Homo sapiens: one gene and its partners. The protein of the gene in region 3 purifies or fractionates together with the protein of the main gene of each other region. This does not show direct contact. Each region holds a gene or a part of one and is shown on either strand. Other genes may lie near its edges.

Evidence for each region. Proteins that work in one complex are often made in the same cells at the same time.
Region 1: the proteins of ADARB1 (region 3) and SDAD1 purify together in Homo sapiens (affinity purification with mass spectrometry; 2 studies listed by BioGRID and IntAct, with this or other methods). This does not show direct contact.
Region 2: the proteins of ADARB1 (region 3) and CHLSN purify together in Homo sapiens (affinity purification with mass spectrometry; 2 studies listed by BioGRID and IntAct, with this or other methods). This does not show direct contact.

The regions. Positions count from the first base shown.
Region 1 is NC_000004.12:75,987,943-75,996,251, reverse strand, and holds the start of SDAD1 (protein SDA1 homolog), read left to right. Parts: upstream 1-5,306; 5' UTR 5,307-5,410; coding exon 5,411-5,500; exon of another isoform or gene 5,501-5,541; coding exon of another isoform or gene 5,542-5,556; intron 5,557-8,309.
Region 2 is NC_000007.14:996,503-1,002,887, reverse strand, and holds the end of CHLSN (protein cholesin), read left to right. Parts: intron 1-2,336; coding exon 2,337-2,418; coding exon of another isoform or gene 2,419-2,422; intron 2,423-5,083; coding exon 5,084-5,263; 3' UTR 5,264-5,454; coding exon of another isoform or gene 5,455-5,472; 3' UTR 5,473-5,882; downstream 5,883-6,385. UniProt on the Homo sapiens protein: Hormone secreted from the intestine in response to cholesterol, where it acts to inhibit cholesterol synthesis in the liver and VLDL secretion,leading to a reduction in circulating cholesterol levels. Acts through binding to its receptor, GPR146.
Region 3 is NC_000021.9:45,068,930-45,078,106, forward strand, and holds the start of ADARB1 (double-stranded RNA-specific editase 1), read left to right. Parts: upstream 1-5,650; 5' UTR 5,651-5,864; intron 5,865-6,121; exon of another isoform or gene 6,122-6,169; intron 6,170-9,177. UniProt on the Homo sapiens protein: Catalyzes the hydrolytic deamination of adenosine to inosine in double-stranded RNA (dsRNA) referred to as A-to-I RNA editing.

The DNA of each region.
Region 1 (8,309 bases), on a different chromosome or scaffold from region 3:
ATTAGCTGGGCGTGGTGGCGCATGCCTGTAATCCTAGCTATTCAGGAGGCTGAGGCAGGAGAATCGCTTGAACCAGAGAGTCGGAGGTTGCAGTGAGCCGAGATCGTGCCACTGCATTCCAGCGTGGCAACAGAGTGAGACTCCGTCTAAAAAAAGAAAGAAAGAAAGAAGAAAGAAAATGCAATAAAAAATTAAATTAGCTTTAAGGACTATAATTCTTTATGAGATTTCTGTTTAGTTTGTGGGCATGTCAAATCATGTAATTTTCCCGTTAACAAGAAAAGCATGAGCTCCCTCTAGTGGCTAATCTAACAGTTTTTTTAAACAATAGGCCAAACATCGCAGCTCCCACCTGTAATCCCAACATTTTGAGAGGCTGAGGCGGGAGGATCACTTGAGCCCAGAAGTTTGAGACCAGCCCAGGCAACATAGCCAGACCCACCCACCCGGTCCCTCATTTCTACAAAAAAATTTAAAAATTAACCAGGCATGGTGGTGCACACCTATAGTCCCAGCCACTTGGGAGACTGAAGCAGGAGGATAGTTTGAACCCAGGAGGCTGAGGTTACAGTAAGCCATGATTGTGCCACTGAACTCCAGCCTGAGTGACACAGCAAGACCCTGTCTCAAATAATAATAATAATAAAACAATATATTTTAATCAGAAAAGGATGAAGACATGACTGGCTTTTCCGAACACAGTCAATATCATTGGTTTCTAATGAGAAAGGTAATAACAAGGATTCACACGTTAGTCACTTACTGATTTTCAGGTAAATTTTATCTGCGTTTGTCCAAGATATTTTAAGTTCCTGCTTTAATAAATCACACAGTTGAAGAATTGGAAGTCATTAGAGATTATCCATGCATTCATTCATTCATTCAACAAATATTAACTGATTACCTATTATATGCATGCATTGCTCCAAGTGTACAGGATAGACAATGAACAAAACAGTCTTCATTAAGCTCATATTCTAGTGCATAAAGACAGGCAATAAACAACTAAACTAGTAAGTATACGATATATCAGAGACGGATAAGGGCTTTGGAGAAAATGAAGCAGGGGAAGGGAGTGTGGGGTGAGCAGAGGGCTGTGAGGTCAGGGAAGACATCTCTAATAAGTTGTCATTTGAGCAGAGACTTGACAATGAGAGAGCAAGGCTTGTGGCACTTGAATCAGAGGAAACAGCAAGTGTGAAGGCCTGAAGTTTGACACATTTAAGGCAGCTAGGGGATCATTGCAGGGTTGAAGGGGCGCAGAGTAAGCAAAGGGGAGAGTGATGGGAGAGGAGCCCAGTGAGATAGTGTGGGGTCAGATCATATAAGGTTTTGGGCTGCTATAACAAATTACCACAGACTCGATGACTTCAACAACAAACATTTATTCCTCACAGTTCTGGAGGCTGGCAAGTCCAAAATCTAGGTGCCAGCAGATCTAGTATCTTAGTATTTGATGAGGCACTCTTCTTGATTTGCAAACAGATGTTTTCTCGTATCCTCACATGGCAGAGATCAGAGAGAAAGGAGGTAAGCTTTCTTGTGTCTCTTCTTACAAGGATGATAATCTCATCATGAGGACTCCACCTTCATGAACTAATTACCTCCTAATACCATCCCATTGGGGGTTAGGGTTTCAACATATGAATTTGGCGGGACACAATCATGCAGTTCATAACAGCCTTCTATGCCACTGAAGAACTTCAGCTTTTACTCTGAGTGAGAAGGGAAGTTGGAAGAATAACCTGATCCATTTAAGGCTCTCTCTGACCACTACATGGAAATACAGTGTAAGAGGGTAAGGGAAAATGCAGAGAGACCAGTTAAAGGTCAGTTACCAAGTATGTTTCCAGGAGAAGGGAGAGACCAACTGTGTCCAATGCTGCAGGTTAAGTTAAATAATGAAAATTGATGTGATTGGTGATCTTGATAAAAAACAGTTTCAGTGGAATGGTAGAAGCAAAAGATTGATCGGCAGTTTCTTAAAAGTTACACGTAAACCTATCATATTGATCCAGTTATTCTATTCCTAGACATTTACCAAGATATTTATGTCCACATAGAGACTTGATGGCACGACATGGTGGCTCAAGCCTGTAATCCCAACACTTTGAGAGGCCAAGGCGGGAGGATCACTTGAGGCCAGGAATTCAAGACCAGCCTGGACAACATAGTGAGACCCTGTCTTTTATATATATATATATATTTTTTTTTTTTTTTTTTTTTTTTTTTGAGACGGAGTCTTGCTCTGTCACCAAGGTTGGAGTGCAGTGGTGCGATCTTGGCTCACTGCAACCTCCACCTCCTGGGTTCAACCGACTCCCCTGCCTCAGCCTCCTGAGTAGCTGGGACTACAGGTGCGCGCCACCACGCCCGGCTAATTTTTTGTATTTTTTAGCAGAGACGGAGTTTCACCATGTTGGCCAGGATGATCTCGATCTCCTGACCTCGTGACCCGCCGCCTCGGCCTCCCAAAGTGCTGGGATTACAGGCGTGAGCCACTGAGCCCAGCCAAAAATATATTTTTTTAAATTAGCTGGGCATGGTGGCACACCACCTGTAGTCCCAGCTACTAGGGAGGCTGAGTTTAGGAGTTCAAGGCTGCAGTGAGCTATGATCATGCCACTGCACTCCACCCTTGGTGACAGAGCAACACCCTATCTCTTAAAAAGAGACTTGAACATGAATGTTCACAGCCAAAACTGGAAACAACCCAAATATCCAGCAACTAGTGAATGGATAAACAAATTGCAATATGTCTATATGATGGAATACTACTCAGGAATAAAAGGAGTGAACTATTGATACATACAACACCATGGATACATTTCAAAATAATTATGCTAAGTGAAAGAACCTTGACCTCAAATAATAGGTACTGTATGATTCCATTTGTATACAATTCCAGCAAACACAGACATATCTTTGGTGACAGAAAGCAGATGTGTGTTTGTCTGGGGATGATGAGGCACAAGGAACGTTTGGGGATGATGGATATAGTCATTATTTTGATTGTGATGATGGTTTTATGGGTACATACATATGTCAAAACTTATCAAATTGTTCACTGGGTAGTTTGTTGTACATCAATTATATCTTAATAAAGCTATAAAATAAATACATTATAATTTTAAAAATAAAGGATGGAATTTCACATGAAAGCAGAGATGTTGGCCTTAGATACCCAAATTATTTAACATCTGAAAAATATATATTCAGTTAGCCACTCTTAGTCTTAGAGTTCTCATTTATCAAAAACAAATCCTGCCTTCCATGCTGCTGGAGGTAAAATGAACTGACCTATATGCCCTCCTTAGAATAGCAATTAAAGCCTTTCATATCAGGACAATATAACCTTCTCAGCTCTTTCCCTGCTGCACCCTGCCCTCCCAGCCTTTAGTCACACCAAACTTATGGCTATTGTTTCAATACACCAGACATTTTCAAGTACCTGTACGCAGTCTTTTTTCTTTTTTTTTTTTTTTTGAGACAGGGTCTCACTGTATTGCCCAGGCTGGTGTGCAGTGCTTCACTGCAACCTTAACCTCCTGGGCTCAAGCAACCCTTTTGCTTCAGCCTCCTCAGTAGCTTGGACCACAAGCCTGTGCCACCATGCCTGGCTGATTTTTCAACTTTTTGGTAGAGATGGGGTCTCACTATATTGCCCAGGCTAGTCTTGAACTACCCAGCTCAAGTGGTTCTCCCACCTTGGCTTCCCAAAGTTCTGGGATTACAGGCTTGAGCTACCACACTTAGCCAGATTTTGTTTTGAGAATACTTTTTTTGCCCTCACTAAAACAACCTAGCCAAAAAATTTTAATTTAAATCTATGCTTTTTAAAAAAGATTTATTGCTGACATTTATTTCTTAACTTCACAGGTAACTGATTTGATAATTAATAAATAAGTCATTCTCCAAAAGCAGCTGAATAACATGGTTTGTGAAGCATTCTTTATTTTGTGTGCAGGTGTGATTACAGAGTTGTTTTGTTTGGGGCTCATTTTATCATCGTCACAGATGAGGTTGGCGTTCTATAAAATTGCTTTGGTTAAGCAGAACCCTATTGTCTGGCTATTTTGCCAGACCAGCAACCAGCTACCAGCTGTTAGGCTATGTTTTTTCTCATGTAGTTACAATCAAGACTGTCTAGATTGAAATCTCATCTTCCTCACAGGCTATGAATTGAGGCAGTCAACTTCCCTGAGCTTGTTTCCTCTTCTGTAAAATGTAGATAACAATAGCACCTATTTTAGAGGGTTGTTCTGAGGATTAAATAAGTTAATACAAGTGCTTGGAATAGTGCCTGGCACAGGGTGGGTAATTAGGTTTTTTTTTCTCTCTCTCTAATTCACAACACCCTACCTCATTCATTCAACCCTTATTGATTTTTTACACCTTGAGATTGTAGAAATGTATTCTCCTCTTCGAATTACCAGGATCTGAATTAAAAACTCTGACTGAGGAGTGCTTACAAAGCTTATAACGATGGTTGAATTTTAACGATTAATTGCATTTATTAATGGTCAACATGATCACATTTTATCCAGCCCTCTTTTCCCTTGTATGGGTCACGCTAAGTTGAAACAACCAAAACCAAAATAAAAACATATCTAAAATCATACACATTAACTTATATGACCCTCGTTGCTCTTTTTTCCTCCTAAGAGGGAATAGTGTTATCTAGCGCCACGGTTCTTTTCAGTTTTGTTTTGTTTTGTTTTGTTTTTTATACGGAGTTTCGCTCTTGTTGCCCAGGCTGGAGTGAAATGGTGCAATCTCGGCTTACCGCAATCTCCGCCTCCTGTGTTCAAGCGATTCTCCTGCCTCAGCCTCCCTAGTAGCTGGGATTACAGGCATGCGCCACCACGCTCGACTAATTTTGTAATTTTAGTAGAGACGGGGTTTCTCCATGTGGATCAGGCCGGTCTCGAACTCCCGACCTCAGGCCCGCCTTGGCCTCCCAAAGTGCTGGGATTACAGGCGTCAGTTTCTAATTTTAGACTGCGGGATTAAAAATAAACGATTAATCCTCATTTATGTGCTTCATATGGGTGTCGGAATGACGATACATGCTAACACACGTGAAAAAATTTACATTTCAGATCCTTTCAGAAACGCAAGGCAATATTAAGTAGTAGCATATGCCCAAGGGCGAGGGGCGGGTCGGCGGTGGCTGGCTCTCCAATACACCACAGAGTATTTTGGCAACGAGAGTAATTTTGACACTCTGAGGCTTCCGTAGCATAGCTCGCTTTAGGAACCGCTAAGGTGTCGCCTGCCTAGAGTCCCATGCGCTATTTCCGGTCATACCCGGAAACACGAGTCCAAGCTGCAGCTGGCAGGGATTGCGGGGTGCCGGCCGTCTGAGTTTTTTTAAAACTGCTCGCCGCGAAGTCTGTCTGCAGCCAAAATGTCCAACAGAAACAACAACAAGCTTCCCAGCAACCTGCCGCAGTTACAGAATCTAATCAAGCGAGACCCGCCGGCCTACATCGAGGAGGTGGGAGTGCGGCGCGGCAGACGCTAGAGGCCGGATAGTGGATGGTTGAGACGCCGGTGCGGGAAAGCATGGAGTGGGGCTGGGATCCAGGCTCGCCGCCTATTCTTCTGTTAGGTTCAGGGGTCCCTCCAGAGGAGAGAAGGGGTTGGGGACGGGACATGCCTTAGGGTTCGTTCCCCACCTCTTGAAAATCTGTTGCCCCTTTGGATTTTCTACCTGCCCTGCTGCCGCTGAAACACCTTTAAAACCTCATTTTGTTTTAAGATATTTTTCTTCGTCCGCACGGAAGTGGAGAGAGAAATGGGCCGCACCCAACCACCAACTTCCACGCGGATTTCTCAGCCTCTTTTCAGAAATCCCAAACTTGAATTAGTCGGTAACCTTTGATGAATCGTATGTTAGAATGCTTTCGATTGACGTCCGTTTCTGAGAGCAGGCTGTGTACCCTGGACTGTGCCAGGAAAGGGGGGGGGGGGGTTTCTCAAGCACAACGGACAGACTCGGGAGCTTAGTATATTTAGTTAAGCCAGGATTCAAACTTACCGGAGACTGGCATGACTCGGATGTCAGAATTTGCTTCGGGAAAAGATTAGGTTGAAAAATTAGGCCCTCATTGTGATGGGCTTTGTGTACTGACCTCATGTAAGTTGTGAACATTAGGGGTGTTTGAACCAAGTACCGACAAAACGAAAGTGGTTTTTGATATATTAATCTGACAGGTGCTTCCTTCAGACACTCATTTATCAGACGGGCATTAAACAGGTATCTCTGCTAGGCATTTGCTGCAATTACATGTTTGTGCTTCTACCAGATTGTGATTTGTTCAGTGGCTAACACAATTACTTATTTTTTCATTGCCCTTCTCACTTCCCTCCTCCCCTAAATTTTCACATATATGTATTTTATGAGTGCTTTTTAACACATGGCAATCTCAGTGGCTTAGGTCACCAGTAGAGAAAGCCTCTCCAAGGATCAAGGTAGTGGAAATAAAGAGTAGGAAACAAGTACAAGAAGTTAAGTAACATAGGCAAGGCTTTGAGATGCTTAAAGCATTGTATAGCCATTCGCAAAGAAAGTGGTAAGTTGAGAGTCTATATAATTCCGTTAGATAACTCCTGCTGCTGACTGTTGTTAACCAGTTGTGTAACCGAAGCAGGTTAATCGCTGAGCCTATGTGGGTATTTTAATATGTAAGAAGGGGGTAATAACTACTTCTTTAATTCACTTAAGTATATATGCAAAATCACATATAACTACTGTGTGTTGTTATTCTAGGTAGGCGTTGGGGTACAGTAATGAATAAGACAGATAAGAAAGCATTCTTCTCTTGGACTTACATTCAAGTGAGTGTAGACTTATTATGGTAGAGATTATGAAGAAAATAAAACTGGATGGGAATAGGTTAGAATTGGAGGCTTCTGATTTAGACCCCGTAAACAGGGAAGGTGGCTCTGCAATGATGATATTGAGCCAGGCAGGTAAACATCATTTTAGGTACAAGGAATAGAAAGTGCAGAAGCTACTGGTGGAAAAAAAGCAGAGAAGAAGCCAGTGTAGCTAAAGTGTAGTCAGCATAGAAGAGGGCAGTGGAAGATGATGTAGGAAATGCAGGCAGGGGTCAGCTTATTCAGAGCCTCTTAGGCCCTGTTAACGAGTTTAGATTTCACTCTGAGTGCCTCGGGGAGTGATTGAAGAGTTTTAAGCAGGAGAGTGACATGATCTGACATATTTTTTTTAAGAATTTACTCTGGAAGTTACATGTGGAATGGCTTGTAGAGGAGCAACACTGGAAGCAGGGTAACTAATATAATGGATCTCAGAATAACCAAGCAAGGGATTGTGGTGTCATTGGAATTATGGGCAAAGATTCGTGCTGTTCTACGTGGAGGTAGAGCTAGTAGAGCCTTGGGATTTCTGGTGGAGTGGATGTGGGGGATAAGGAAAAAAGAAGGAATGAAGGATCACCCAGGTTTTTTATTTATATGTCTAGGTAGATGATAGTGCCATTTCCTGAAGTTCGTTCATTTGACAAATACTGTTGATTACCTGCTATATGTAAGGCACAATGCTGGGCCCTGGGACTACATAATATTGAGCTGTACCGATAAAAATTCTATGCTCATTAAATGACATTCTAGTAGGGGGTGATATACAGTAACAAATAATATAGTATGTTAAATAATGAAAAGTGCTGTGAAAAAAAGACAATAGGAAAGTACTTATGTATGTTGGGGGTGAGATGGGTATTGCAGTTTTAAATTGGATAGTTAGGGAAGGTCTTCTTGAGATAGTAATCTTTGAGTGAAAACCTGAAGGACATGAGGGAGAGCTGTGCATATGTTTAGGAAGAATGATCTAGGCAGAAGGAACAGAAGGTATAAAGACCTTGGGGTAGGTATGCCTGGTAGATTTCAGGAACATAAAGGCCAGTGTGGCTCCAAATAGGGAATGAGGAAAGGGGGTGAATTTGGGATTCTACCTCCCAATGAGATGGAAGCCTTTACAGGGTTTTGAGCAGAAGAATACATGAACCACCCTATATGAGAACAAGATCACCGTTACTTGAGGATAGACTGTATGTAGGAGGGCAAAGATAGAAGCAGAGACACCACATAAGAAGCTATTGGAATTATCCACAGCAAGAGATGATGCTGGGTTGAGTGGTGCTAGGATGGTAACAGGAAGTAGTAAGAAGGGTGATTAGATCCTGGATTGGGTAGGTAGAGAAAGCCCTGGGGATTCCCAACATTTAAAGGCCAGTGAGTTTCTAAGTAACTGGAAAAAGGGACTGAGAAAGCAGCCAGTGAAG
Region 2 (6,385 bases), on a different chromosome or scaffold from region 3:
GACTCCCCACCCACAGGACTCCACTCACCCACAGGACTCCCCACCCGCAGGACTCCACTCACCCACAGGACTCCCCACCCACAGGACTCCACTCACCCACAGGACTCCACTCACCCAAGGACTCCCCACCCACAGGACTCCCCACCCACAGGATTCCACTCACCCACAGGGCTCCACTCACCCACAGGGCTCCACTCACCCGCAGGACTCCACTCACCCGCAGGACTCCACTCACCCGCAGGACTCCCCACCCACAGGACTCCCCACCCGCAGGACTCCACTCACCCACAGGGCTCCACTCACCCGCAGGGCTCCACTCACCCGCAGGACTCCACTCACCCACAGGGCTCCACTCACCCACAGGACTCCCCACCCACAGGACTCCACTCACCCACAGGACTCCCCACCCACAGGACTCCACTCACCCACAGGACTCCACTCACCCACAGGACTCCCCACCCACAGGACTCCCCACCGGCAGGACTCCACTCACCCACAGGACTCCCCACCCACAGGACTCCATTCACCCACAGGACTCCCCACCCACAGGGCTCCACACCCACAGGATTCCCTACCCACAGGACTCCCCACCCACAGGATTCCACTCACCCACAGGGCTCCACTCACCCACAGGACTCCACTCACCCGCAGGACTCCACTCACCCGCAGGACTCCACTCACCCACAGGACTCCCCACCCACAGGACTCCCCACCTGCAGGACTCCACTCACCCACAGGACTCCACTCACCCACAGGGCTCCACTCACCCACAGGACTTCCCACCCACAGGACTCCACTCACCCAGAGGACTCCCCACCCACAGGACTCCCCACCCGCAGGACTCCACTAACCCACAGGACTCCCCACCCACAGGACTCCACTCACCCACAGGACTCCCCACCCACAGGACTCCACTCACCCACAGGACTCCACTCACCCACAGGACTCCCCACCCGCAGGACTCCCCACCCGCAGGACTCCCCACCCACAGGACTCCACTCACCCACAGGACTCCCCACCCACAGGACTCCACTCACCCACAGGACTCCCCACCCACAGGGCTCCACACCCACAGGACTCCCTACCCACAGGACTCCCCACCCACAGGACTCCACTCACCCGCAGGACTCCACTCACCCACAGGACTCCCCACCCACAGGACTCCACTAACCCACAGGACTCCCCACCCGCAGGACTCCCCACCCGCAGGACTCCACTCACCCACAGGACTCCACTCACCCACAGGACTCCCCACCCGCAGGACTCCCCACCGGCAGGACCCCCCACCCGCAGGACTCCACTCACCCACAGGACTCCCCACCCACAGGGCTCCACTCACCCACAGGACTCCCCACCCACAGGATTCCACTCACCCACAGGACTCCACTCACCCGCAGGACTCCACTCACCCACAGGACTCCCCACCCACAGGACTCCACTCACCCACAGGAATCCCCACCCACAGGACTCCACTCACCCACAGGACTCCCCACCCACAGGACTCCACTCACCCACAGGACTCCCCACCCACAGGGCTCCACACCCACAGGACTCCACTCACCCACATGGCAGTGGGGTCAGGCAAGCTGGGCAGCGCTCACAACAGGCACAGGGCCCTCCCCCGTGCTGAGCCTACAGTCTTCAGACCTGGGCTTGCACACTGATGGAGGCTTCTGGGCTCGGCTGCCCTGCCTGGCCCTGGAAACACGTATCTGGGAGGAGGTCTCTGGAGTAAACCCTGCCTGGCCCTGCCCTACCCACAGCGCCAGCTTCGCTCCATCCGCAGCTGCCTGATGTCCACAGGCCCTAGTGCAGGAGCGGGACGGGGGCGGGGTGGTTGTGGCCCTGGGGAGCGGCCCCTCTAGCAGCCGGGAGCTGCTCGTCCCCAGGCCCACTGGCCCCTTGTTGTGAGGGCCTGGGACTCAGGGTATTGTTCCTTACAGTCTTCCCATTTTCATGTAGAAAATACATCATCAATTACATCGCTCCCTTTCCTCCCAGAGAAACTCACTTCATCCTTCCCCCCCTGTAAAATCCGTGTGACCCATGGGGTGGGGGAGCCCACGGGGACTTGGGGTCAGTGGTGAGCCCCGGGGTGGCCAAGGTAAGAGTGGCGTCCACATGCTTCCTGGTCAGGCGGCAGCAGGGCGTGGGGTTGCGGCTCCTCGCCTCGGGCAGGGGAGGGGCTCCAAAAACCCTCTTCACATGAGGCCTTGGTGTGTAGTACCTGGTGGGGCTCCCTCTCCTAAGATGAGGCGTCCCCGATCTCTCAGGGCAGACAGCTGCCCGGGAGTCTTTTGCCCAGCACCCTGAGATGTTTGTCTTTCTTTCCCTAGATGGGCCCAAAAGCACAAGAACTGGAGGTTTCAGAAGACGAGGCAGACGTGGCTCCTGCTGCACATGTATGACAGTGACAAGGTGTGTGCACGGCGGGGCAGGCACGTCTCCTGGGGGCTGAGGTCTGTGCACGGCGGGGCAGGCACGTCCCCCCGGGGGCTGAGGTGTGTGCACGGCGGGGCAGGCACGTCTCCCGGGGGCTGAGGTGTGTGCACGGCGGGGCAGGCACGTCTCCCGGGGGCTGAGGTCTGTGCACGGCGGGGCAGGCACGTCTCCTGGGGGCTGAGGTCTGTGCACGGCGGGGCAGGCACGTCTCCTGTGCACACTGGGGCCCTGACAGCAGAAGCCACAGTCTGAAGGGGCCGCCCTCAGGGCCCCACTGCAGGGCAGGTCTCCCGGTGCCTTTGTTCTAAGAGATGAGCAGCGTTGCCTCCTCCAGGAGCCCTGCCGCCGGCCTTCAGGGCAGAAACCAACACGGGGTAACCTTAGGGAGGCCACCTGCACGTGTGCGTGTGACGTGTGTCTACACGTGCGTGTGTGCATGACGTGTGTCTACACGTGTGTGCGCGTGATGTGTGTCTACACATGTACGTGTGGGCAGCTGCCCTTTTCAGGGGCAGGATGTGAGATAGAGTTTCACAGGATGAAACGAGACAGAATTCTGAACTAAACCCGGCTGCTGGGCGGCGGGCTGGAGCTGCCCATGTCCTGTGAGGCTGGAGGAGCCCACGGTTCTGCTGAGCTGCATCCGGTGGGCAGTGCCTCCTGCCTCGCTGGCTCTCCTGCGCCCACGTTACTAGAGGCCAGGCTTTGCGTGCGCGCTGGGGGCAGGGGGCGGTTTTCTCCTGCCGTGCCTGTGTTTGCAGACTCTCAGAGCGGGGCAGGCCCACCAGCCCCACTCACAGCCCTGGGACATTCCAGGCATAGCCTGCAGCCACTTGCTTTCATTATTTTGTTGTTTTTGTTTTTTTGTGGGCGTTTTTTGAGACAGGGCCCCGCCCAGGCTGGAGTGCAGTGACACGACCACAGTTCACTGCAGCCTCGACCTCCTGGGCTCAAGCCACTCTCCCTCCTCAGAGTTAGAGGACATACACATTGCAAGCCCTATTGCAAGCCGATTGTAAGCCCTATTGCAAGCTCCGGTAATCGCGACACTGGGGCAGGCACAAGGGTGGAAGTAGAATTGACTGGAACAGCCTGGGAAGCCTGGAAACCCTCACGCCCGGCGCAGCTGATTCCAGCATGCGGGCCAAGCCTGTTCCATGTGGAGGAAACCTCTTCTTAACAGAGCCAGGGACAACTGGGTTTCCACGTTTTGTTTTGTTTTAACCAAAGTTTACGTGGTTTTATTTATATGTTACTATTACCAAAAGTAAACTTTATACAAAACTTTTTATACAGAAAAATAATCCTTGGTTAGGCAAATCCTTGGTTAGCCATTTATATGTGTGTATACACACACACACACACGCAAAGTTATCTTACACTATTGTAATTAAACATATTTACAAACACACAAATGTGCATTTTACTTATACATTTTTATTTCATATGTAACCGTACATATTTACGAACATGCCGATACTTAATGCACGCAGCCCCCAGCTTCAAACCATATGCAAAAATTAACTCAAAATGGATCAGAGACTTAAATTTAAAAGCTAAAACCAAAACTCTTAGATGAAAGCCTAAGAGTCCATTTCGTGCCCTTGGGTGAGGCAACAGTTTCTTAAATGTGACTCTAGAAGCACAAGCGACAAAGGAAAAAGTCGAGAAAGTGCCTTCATCAGGATCTAAGACTGTGTAGCCGGGCGTGGTGGCTCACGCCTGTAATCCCAGCACTTTGGGAGTCTGAGGCGGGTGGATCACTTGAGGTCAAGAGTTCGAGACCAGCCTGGCCAACATGGCAAAAACCCCGTCTCTACTAAAAATACAAAAATTAGCTAGGTGTGGTAATGCTTGCCTATAATCCCAGCTACTTGGGAGGCTGAGGCAGGAGAATTACTTGAACCTGGGAGGTGGAGATCGTGCCACTGCACTGCAGCCTGGACAACAGAGCAAGACCGGCTCAAAAAAAAAAAAAAAAAAAAAAAGAATCTAAGACTTTGCACTGCATACAGAACTAGCTGGAAAGTGAAATGGTTGCTACAGAATGGGAGACGTTTGCAAGTCCCACATGGAATTAGAACTCTGCTAACTCAATAATAAAAAGAGCCCAGTGTTGAAAGCCGCTGCCACAGGGACCTGAGGAAACGTGCCTGCAGAGCAGATTGTCAGGTGACTGGTGAGCCTGTGCAGAGGTGCCCCCACCACCAGCAGACAAGGGTCAGGCCACCAAGAGATGCCACCTGGCCACTGCCGCCCTGAGCAGAAAGGCGAGCGTGCCAAGTGCCGGCGCGTACTTGGCTTTTTGTTCTGAATGCACCTTTCATCACCGCCTACCCCTGTTTAATTTGTGTCGTATTTTCTCGTTTTTCTGAGGATTTTTACGATGTTTGTGAAATGTTCTCCCCACATGGCTTCTGTTTTACCCAGGTTAATTGAGTGTTTTGTCTGCCTCTAAACAGGCATTTCTTCTTCCAGTGTCTGGGGCAGGGTCTGTGGCCAGGCCGCCCACACCCTCGGGCCGCAGTGGGAGGACGGAAGCCTGAGGCCCGGGTGTCCTTGGCTGCAGCGTCTTGTCTCCTGCTGTTCAGCGGCCCCTCCCTGCCCCGCCCCTGACCAACTCGATCTCTTTCCCGTCCAGGTTCCCGATGAGCACTTCTCCACCCTGCTGGCCTACCTGGAGGGGCTGCAGGGCCGGGCCCGAGAGCTGACGGTGCAGAAGGCGGAAGCCCTGATGCGGGAGCTGGATGAGGAGGGCTCTGATCCCCCCCTGCCGGGGAGGGCCCAGCGCATCCGACAGGTGCTGCAGCTGCTCTCCTAGTGGGTTCAGCGCGGGGCGGGGCCGCTGCCCAGTGCAGGGCTGCCTCAGACCACACAGGGTGCAGCTCCTCCGGCGGTGGGGGCCGGGTTCACCAGCAGGGCAGCGGCTGAGCAAGGGCTTTCAGCTCCTCCGGTGGTGGGGGCCGGGATCACCAGCACCAGAGCCTCGCAAGGGCCCCTTCCCTCCTCCAGACCCTCCTTGGCCGGTGACGGCTGTGACAGTGATGGCAGGTTCAGTGCCTTCAGCGCAGAGCGTGGATGCTCTGGAATCACCCGGACCCCTGGCCTTGGAGGGACCCTCCAGCCCCAGGAATCTGCTTTGGAGGGAAATGTCTATTTTTCTACCGGGAATATTTTAGAGATTGGGGCATGCTGGCTCCTCCCGCCAGCTGCAAACCTGCACCTTCCGCCTGATTCCCGATCCCCCTGCGTGGGCCGCATTCCTGGTCCCCTGCCTGCGTCCATCGAGGGGCCTGGCTGTGGCCTGTTTTCCTTTGACCCCACACAGCGTCATTGCGGGTCATGGGGAGCCCCTGGTGGGAGCTTGTGGAGTCGGATCACGTACCTGTGCAGAAACCGCCTCTGTGGCTGCATTTGAAATAAAACCCGACCCAGCAGCAGCCGTGGGTCCTGCTCTGTGCGGTGCGTCCCCTGCCTGTGGACTGCGGAATTCGTGTCCCCCATGCCAGCGCACGCCAGGCTGAGACCCCGCCCTTGGTGGCCACCCCAGGATGGCATTGGGGGCGCTCTGTGTGTGGCGTTCCTGGCAGTGGGTGCTGGCTGATCGCTTGCGTTCAGGCCGGCCGTTTCCCAGCGCTGGCAGTGACTGACCCTGCCAGGAAACACACTTAGGCCGCACAGAATCAAGCCACACACTTCCTGTTCCCAGCAGCACGTGGTCCCTGCCCCCAAGTGATGTGAGGTGCCGCGGGGCACCGGGAAGGCCGTGGTGACCGCAGAGCTCTGGGCAGCTGCCGGGGAGGGCCGGGTGGCCATGGCGAGGAGGTCCGTGCCCCACTGTGAGGCCAAGTCTGTTCCAGGATGGGCCCCGGGGAGGGCTGAGGCCAGTGGCTCCGGTCTGGGCCTCCACAGAGCAGACACCCAGGTGCTGCTGCCCCGGGGC
Region 3 (9,177 bases):
GGGTCTGGAGCCAGGTTCCCTTCTTTCCTTTCTCCATTCTCTCTTTAGGGGATCGGTGACGTCTTCCATTTTCAAGGGTTTCAAGTGTCCGTCTCCAGCACGGCTCTCCTCTCCGGACATCAGTCTTTTGTACGTAGCTATCTTCCCAACACAGCCACTCAGACATCCTGTAGGCATCGCAAACTTAACGCACCCAAAAGGAATGCCTGGTTTCGTCCCCCCATCCCCCGTGTCATCCCAGAGCACCATCACCCGCCAATATGTGCAAGCCAGGATCCTGGGTAAGCCCTGATGCTTCTCCTCCCCAGACCCCTCTAGTGACTCTATCACTAAGTCCTGTTGAGTCTAATTCCAAAAGCCTCTTAACTCTTTCCATTTCCACTGTCAACACCTGATGAAGGTCTTCTGCATGGAAGCCGCAGGCATGCCTGAGCTCTAGGCAGACACCGCCGGGTAAGTCAGAGCCTCCGTCCCCTCACCGGGGTGCTGATTTGGGTTGTGTTTCTCCCACCCCCAGACAGTCTATGCACTTCGATGGCAGCTGCTCCACCTCCCAGTTCCAGAGCTAGGCCCTACTTGGCTAAACCAGGGATTGCCTTTCTCTGCAAAGGGCCAGATGGCAAAGATCTATGGCTCTACCGGCCACATAAGCCCACTGCATCTATTCTTCATAAGCCCCCACCCACCCCAACACTTTACATGTTTAATGTTCATTCTTAGCTGTTGACTGGACACCACTGGGCCCAGGCTCAGCCTGCCCACCTCTGACTTAACCACGCAGCACATTCCCTTTCCCTGGTCTCTACAGAGTGCAAAGTGGCCTGACCAGGAGGACTCTTCTGACCAATGGTGGCAGAAGCCTCCTCTCTTCTCTGACTTCATGTGCCATGGAAGTGCTTTTTCCTCTGCCACAGGCACTCCTGCTGTCAATGCCTTCTCATCCTCCAAGGCTCAATGCAGCTTCCTGCATTTTTCCTCTGCCACAGGCATTCCCGCCGTCAGTGCCTTCTCATCCTCCAAGGCTCAGTGCAGCTTCCTGCAGCTTGCTCTGACACTCCTGAGCGGTGCAGCTGCAGTGCCCTGGACTCCTGCAACCGTTCACACTCCTCTTCATTAGGAGCCTGCATTTGTACATCACCACTGGAGCTTTTCCACCCATCGTCTCCCTCTTCTGGATGCAGAACAGGCTCAGACAGGCCAAACAACTTGGCCAGTGCTGCATGGCACAGCCAGGTCCGCACTGACTGTCACGCCTCTGTTCCTGCCCTGGACGGTGTCTCAGGTAACACACTGCACTGCTCCCTGACACCATCTCCCCACTAGAACATGAACGCCCTGAAGCAAAGACATCTTCCTGGCCACGTGTTGACCTATGCACGTGACACTGCCTACGGCGCTGAAAGGCCATCAGTTCGTCCTCTCTCTCCTGCCCCTGTGTGTCTACCCCAGTTTTCTCTCTTCAGGCTGGCCAGTGATGGAGACCATCCTAATTGTGCTGGATTTGAACCCTTCAGGCCTAGGCACAAAGAGAGACTCACGATTGTCTCAATGCTAGCTCTAAGCACCCAGGGCCATCCTGGGAGTCAGAATCCCGCCTGAGGTCCTGGAGTGGGTTGTGGGGGGGTGTGCTGTGTGCCTGTCACAGAGCACAGACAGACTGTTCCTGCTGTGTCACTGTGGGAGTTGGGAGTTGTCCTAGAGACAGTGGCACATTGTGAGCTGGGCAGGTCTCACACATGGTATCCACCACCATGGCAGCTGCTGACTGAATGGTTTGGCAACATCTGGTTTTTGCCACTCCAGTCTCATGTCTTCTTATTTTATTTTTAAAATATAGGGCAAAAAATATTATGTCTCAAATCACGGTATCACCGAATATTGGTCACCTCTTATTAGCAGTTTTATGCTCCTCCTGACGTTTGAGAAACAAGGAAATCAATAATCCACTTTAGGCTACAATCTAAAAAGTACCTGTGAGTGTCCTTTCTCAAATAGATTGGGCAGAATTAAAACAAAGCAAGATTGTTTAAAGCTACATTTTTAGTTGCACACAAGGACTATAGTCAAATAGGCTTCAAAAGCACAAAGGCTGTGGTCAGTCATCAGCCCTAGGACACCAGGACCAAGACCAGGCCACAGTCTCAGCACAGCAGGTTGGCAGCTCGCTCTGTAATTGATGAGACAGAAATCTGAGCACACGGATTGCCCTGTGTGGCTGGAAAGGGAAAGGAAGGCTGTCCTGGCCACCGCGGCCCAGGGAGGCCAGCACACCCGTGCGCAGGTCACGTGACCCACTGCTCTGATCCCACCGTTCTAGCCACAGTCTGCCAGGCCCTGGGCATGACAGGAAGGGGGTTCACAGATCAGTGGCATTTACACGGGTAAGCTTTGAACACTGTCTTCAACTGAAAGGCCAGTGTGTGAACAGGCCGGGCAGCTGGACCACTCCGAGGCTGGCGCCTTCCCCTCCTTTCGGGCAGTTCCCAGAAGGCTCAAGACCACAGTTTGAAATCCACTTAATCTCTCGAGTCGGCCTGGGTCTATATCCTAAGACCGTGGAAATCATTTTGTGCCACCGTATCCTGTAGGCATTGGCAGGACCAGCGTAATTTTTAGTTCTTCTCGTGGGAGACAGTCACAGGGTCATGCCATTTAACTGCACTGAAGGGAAAACGTGGGAAATGGATTTTTGGTGCTGTGTAGACCACATTTCATAGCGGTTGGCATCTCACATGCTTATGCAAAGCCTAACTCCGCACCCTGGGGCAGACAGTGGGAGCCCAGCTGGATTCCTACACTCAAGCCCTCCAGCATCAGGTTTATTTTCCAGGACACCAGAGTGATTGTTTATTCCATAATTCCCACAAAGGAGACAGTAAACAACAGAACAGAGGTGGAGCGGGCACGGAAGGCCAGGAAGTGGATGGTGGCTGCCAGCACTTCTGTGGAGACCCAGGGCCCCCCTCCAGGAGCCCCGGTGTTCAACCTCCACAGTGAACAGGGGATGGATGGCTGAGATGTCCTCGAAATTTTTTTGGACTTCCTCAGGCGACCACAGGATTCCTTCTCAAAGAGCCTGATCTCAGCAGGCACCCGAATGGGCATCCTGGTGCTTCATGCTCTACAACAGCTGGGAACGCCATGTCCTGGCCCCAGGCGACTGGAAACTGCTTTCCTCCCCGACATCAGCACCAAGGGGAATGTTCCCAGTGCCATTCTTCCAAGTCAGGGAGAGCGTCACAATAGAAACCGTCTCTGTGGAGAGGATGGCACCTGAAGCCATGGAATAGGAAGGGAGCATCAGAGGCTGCTGGCTGGTCCTGCAGAGCCGCCTGAGAGGCCTGTGGGAGCAGCAGAGGGTCCCGGCCTTGGGCGCCATCCGCTCTCTGCTGCTCTGGAGGGAGAAAAAGGACAAGTTGAAACTTGCACAAGCAGCCTCCATTCTGGGGAGTTCCCTTGTATTCCCCACACCAACCCGCACCTCAGCGAAGGCCTGTGGAAGACTTCTGCAGTGACAGCCCCGATGAACCATGCTTGCCGTGCCCGTCCCCTGTGCGGTGCCTCACGTCCACTCAGGCCCCGGCCATCTCACCCTCCTGGGGAGATGGAGGGAAGCACCATGGGGATTTGCTTTTTCTTGCTGCCGACGGAGCCCAGCCACCACGGGAGGGAGGCCCGGCCAGCCTGCGGTGGGTGGGTGACATGTGGCCCGGATCTGCCCGGGGCGCCTGCCTGTAAGTGGGCCCAGCAGACACCCCATGGAGCCGAGGCAAGCCGTCCCAGCTGAACCGGCTTAAGCTGCAGGCCCACAGAGTCATGAGCAGTGAAGAGAGGTTTTCGCCCTCTGAGGTTTGGGGTGGCCTGTTACACAGAAATACACACAACGTCCTCAGGCACGTATCTCTTTAAGAATGTGTCCCGAGAAGGCGTCCCAGGAGTCTTGATTTTTATTTAGCCGTCCACGGTTGCCCCTTTGGGTGCTTCGCCTTCAGATGGGGTGAAGGGCTCACTTGTTAGCTGGCTGGCCCCAAAGACAGGCTTGTTTTCCACCAGGCAGTGACTGAAGCCGGCAGCCTGCTGCATACCGCGGGCCTTCCCCTGACCTGTCCGGGACTGCGGGCTGGCGGCTGACACCTGCGGAGTGCTTACCGCATACCAGGCTCCCAAACTTCCATCTGTGTTCGTCTTTTAAGTTTTGTTGTTTTCCAGAGTCGGAGTCTCAGTGTTGCCCGGGCCAGAGCGCAGCGGCCATTTATAGGCGCGGACCTCGGCCTCGCACACCACAGCTCCAGCTCTGAGACACAAGCGACCCGCACCCCCCCACCGCCCAGCCCCAGCCTCCAGACTGGCTGAGATCACAGTGTGCGCCACCCCATCCCTGGCTTGCGATGGTCTCTTACTCCCCACTTTACAAGGGAGGAAAGAGGCCGAGGGCAGAGTGGGCCGCCTGAGGTTTGGAGGCCAGGGCTAGTACAACCTCAATTTGACCCTGGAACCTGCCGCTTCCCCCACCCAGGTGCGGGACCCACCCGCTTGTCCACACCTGGCTCTGCCCACCGCCCCCGGCTGCTCCTCTGGGCTCAGGTCGCCGCGGTCAGGAGCTGCCAAGTTTGCCTATCAAACTTTATCTTCGTGCAGAGAACTGCAGCCTGGAGCTGGTTATTCCGGTCAGTGAAAACGTTGCATTTCTACATATGCTTATCATCATCTGTGTAAACATTTCTTGGTATAACTGTGGAACAGTCAGTAAATATAGATAAATCGAAGAGTAGGTCTATTGCATATGCTATAAAAAAATGCTTTTACTATCAACCTAAAACAAACAAACAAACAAAAAAAATCAAACAAAACCACCATCACCTAAACGTTGGTAACTGGAGCAGCTGCTAGTGTCAGTGCGGACTAAACAGGAGACGGCGGGAACCGTGTCCAGCCAGGGTCCTGGGCCGCGACCTGGTTCTCCCGGAGTCTACAGTGAGGATGACGGGCGGGGAGAGGGGGCCGGCGGGACCCGCGTGTCCCAGGCAACTCCGGGAGAGGGAGAAGCAGGGGTGGCTCGGCGGGGGCTCGGCGGGGGCTCGGCGGGGGCTCGGCGGGGGCTCGGCGGGGGCTCGGCGGGGGCTCGGCGGGGGCAGCGCCCGCTGCAGGGAGGAGCGCGGGGGCCCGGGAGCCTGGGCAGCACCGCGAGACGCCACCTCCGCAAAACGCAAACGCCAATCGCCGGGCGCCTGCGGTCCCAGCTACCAGGGAGGCTGAGGCGGCAGGATCGCGTGAGCTCGGAGGTCCACCGCGCTCCAGTCTGGGCGACAGTGAGACCCCGTCCCCAAAACGAAGGCGGGCAGAGTCTCCTCAGCCGCGCTCGGGCGGGCGGCGCCGCGACGCCAGGCCGGTCCCGCGCTCTCGCCCCACGCTCCGGAGCCGCCCAGCCGCGGTCTCTCAGCTCCGGCCGCGCTCCAGCCCCAACGGCCCCGCGCCCGTCCGCCGCAGGTGGTCGTGAGGGAGGTGCCACAGCTCCGGCTGCCCACGACAGACACGGGCGCCCCAGCGCGCGCACGTCCGGCGTCGCTGCGCCGCCCCCGCCCCCTCGGCGTGCGCGCGCCCGGCGGGCCGGCGGGGGCGGGGAGGGGGCGGAGCCGCCGGCGGCGGGGCTGAGGCGCTGAGGCGGCCGTGGCGGCGGCGGCGGCGGCGGCGGCAGCGGCGGCCAAGCGGCCAGGTTGGCGGCCGGGGCTCCGGGCCGCGCGAGGCCACGGCCACGCCGCGCCGCTGCGCACAACCAACGAGGCAGAGCGCCGCCCGGCGCGAGACTGCGGCCGAAGCGTGGGGCGCGCGTGCGGAGGACCAGGCGCGGCGCGGCTGCGGCTGAGGTGAGGGCGGCGCGGGGCCGCGGCGGCTCGGGCGGGCGCGGGCTCCGGACCCCGCGGTGGCGGCGTTTATGTAAGCGCCGGGCAGGGACTGGTGGTGGGGCCGGAGCTGCGGGCCGTCCCGGGAGCGGAGGGCGCCCGCGGAGAAGCGAGGGTGCCGCGGCACCGCCTCGCACCCACCCTCCTGGGTCGCCCGTCTGCTCCGGCGCTCGGCTCCCGGAGGAAGCTGCGCCCGGGCGGCCCCGCGTCCCCTCCCGAGGGCGCCGAGTCCGCGTGGGATGCGCCGCGCTGCGCCGCGGGGAGGGCAGGTGCGCCGGGACGAGGCTGCGCCCTGGGGACCGAGACTGCGTTTTGGGGAGGGGACGGTGTGCCCTGGAGATCGGAGGCTGCGCTGGGGACGAGGCTGCGCCCGGGGACCAGAGGCTGCCCCGGGTACAAGGTTGCGCCGGGGAACGGGAGGCTGCGTTGGCAACAAGGCTGCGCCTGGGGACGGTAGGCTATGTCCCTGGGGAGACGCTCCGCCCGGCATGGGACGCTGCGCCGGGGGACGGCAGGCTGCGCCCGGGATGAGGCTGGGCCCGGGCAGGGGAGGCTGCCTTGGGAGGGGACGCTGTGCCACGGGAGTGGAGACTGCGTTGGGGACGAGTCTGCGCCCTGGACGGTCCTGCGTGTCCTTCCGAGGGCGCAGTGTCCGCGCGGGATGCTCTGCGCCGCGGGCGGCCCGGGCCAGGGAAGTTCCTGCGGGTGCCGGGCGTCTGCAGCGATCGGGAGCAATCTGGGGCAGTTGGGGGCCCGAGGTGACTTTTGACGTGTTCACATCAGAAGGAAAATTATTGCGTGGTGGATGGGTGCGAGGGAAGGTGTCAGATTGGGCTGTGGACGCTGAAACGTGTTGGAGTCCCGATTTACACGCTGGAAAACCTAACCTAAAACGTGTTCCTGTCCAGGTTTCTATGTCGGAGATCTGCACCGTGGTGTTTAGTTCCCAGTTAATATTTTTGGTCAGCAGGTTTGGGCTGTTACTTCTGATACAGGCATTTTACTTCCTTCTTACTAACCATTATTGCATTCCGTTCTCGAAGTATAACGAAAAGTGGCATGATATCAAACTTGTTTCTTTAACGTTTAACTCCATAATTAAGATGATAGAACCGTAGTTTTTTTAATTGAGAATACAAATATGTATTTAATCCTCTTTGTTTCCTCTTAAATTTTGCCGTATGTTTTATTGCTTCGAAAGGTGCCACCCAGAGCTGCATTTTCCAAAACGCTAGGTTGTCTTAAGAGCAGTTGTTTCTAGGAGATAGAAAAGCTAATTGTCTTTTGATGACCATCTTTTCCTTGGGGTTGAGACTGCTGTATCCTTTTTGCCTGCTGAGGGTTTCCCAGAGGGGAAAGGGAGAAGGAAGAAAGGATAAAAGCTTGGCTGATACAGTTCCTTCTTGGATAAGAGAATTAACTGTCTCTCATTGCGCGGTTCCTCCGGAGGACAGGGTCCAGTATGCATGGACAGCCACAACGGGGGCTCGGTAAGTATTTGATGAGACAGGCTGAGCTGGGTGCCTATATCTTGCCTGTGGTGGAGAGGATGAACTCACACAGACTCTGAAAGGAATGCATTGTCTGTGAGTGATGCCCTGTTAGATGTCTGAGGGTTCCTAAGACTGGGTATATCCCACTACATCTACATCACATTTGAAGCTGTAGTTGGAAAGGAAAAAAGGAGGCCCTCCTGCAGGGACAGGGGCTTAAAAATAATCGATCCAGCTCTGAGAAATTGATGACACATGTGTCTCTGGTGTGACGTGCTCATGCAGTTGTTACTGGGAGGCCAAGGGGGAAGGATTAGCTATGAAGTGATAACATCATCCACAAAAAACATCTTGGCTCAGAGGCTAATTTCACTTCCTCGTGAATTTATGTATTGTAAAACATTTGAATTCTTTTAGATTTTTGGAATAAGAATTTTTTTAACTTCTATTTGTCCAGTGAATGCATAAAACAAACTTAATCCATTTGACAAATACTTGTCTGTGGCCTGTTATGTGCTAGGCCTTCCCTGTTTTAGGCCCTAGGAGATACAGTACTTAACAAGATAGGTAGAGATCAAAAATGCTTCTGGCATAAAGCAGTACATTTGTATTGATAGATTTAAAAAGATAAGCAAGCACACAGTACCTACAGAAAGGTAAAGCCTCATTCCACTCCATCCCTGGGCACTTGGTTCAAAGGCTGCACCCAATTGTGTATTGTCCTAGCAGGAGTCAAAGTGTGTATTGTATATGTTTTAATATATGACAAACCTTGCTATAGTGCATATTCTTACACGTGGGTACAAGCAAAGCCTACTAATTAGTTATTATCAAAATTTCTTAGCTGTAAGTTTTACTTAAGAACTGGGTTTTATTCCCTTGAATGCTGTGATTAGCTCTGTGATCAAACAATATAATTCAAATAGGAGGTAGTTAACTTTGGAAAGAAATAGATGAAGTTACACATTTACCAGCCTATAAAAAAGTTTAGCAAAGTTATCAAGCTTAGTTTGAAACCAAAAAGCTCAGAGAGGTCCAATTTTATTAGAAAACTCAATGGTGGCCGGGCGCGGTGGCTCACGCCTGTAATCCCAGCACTTTGGGAGGCCGAGGCGGGTAGATCACGAGGTCAGGAGATCGAGACCATCCTTGCTAACACGGTGAAAACCCGTCTCTACTAAAAAAATATAAAAAATCAGCCGGGCATGGTGGTGGGCGCCTGTAGTCCCAGCTACTTGGGAGGCTGAGGCAGGAAAATGGCGTGAACCCAGGAGGCGGAGCTTGCAATGAGCTGAGACCGTGCCATTGCACTCCAGCCTGGGCAACAGAGCGAGACGCCGTCTAAAAAAAAAAAAAGAAAAGAAAAAGAAAACTCAGTGGTTTTCTGTGTCAACTTTCTAAAATAGGAATTTCTAAATCTGTAATTTGGTGTGATGGAAATGGTGTTAAAAAAAAACCCATATTATTTTGTATGTTCATAATATGTGAGGTAGGAAAAGCAAATGGGAAAATTAAAAATTGTCCAGTGAAATCATTAAGATTCCTTCCTTATTCCTTGAGTGACTTTTCTTTCCAAGTTGACAGCTTTTTATCTGGGGTGTGGACAGGGACAGCGCAGTAGCCCACAGAGGTCTTCGTGGCAGGGCTTACCGCACCTTCCATTTGCAGAGTTTTGCTTCATCCATAGCTTGACAGCTGTTGGGCTAGGGCCATTAATATCAAATTATCACAATTTTTTTTTTTTGGTAGTTTGATTAGTACTGCTTGCTGCACTTTTCCACCTG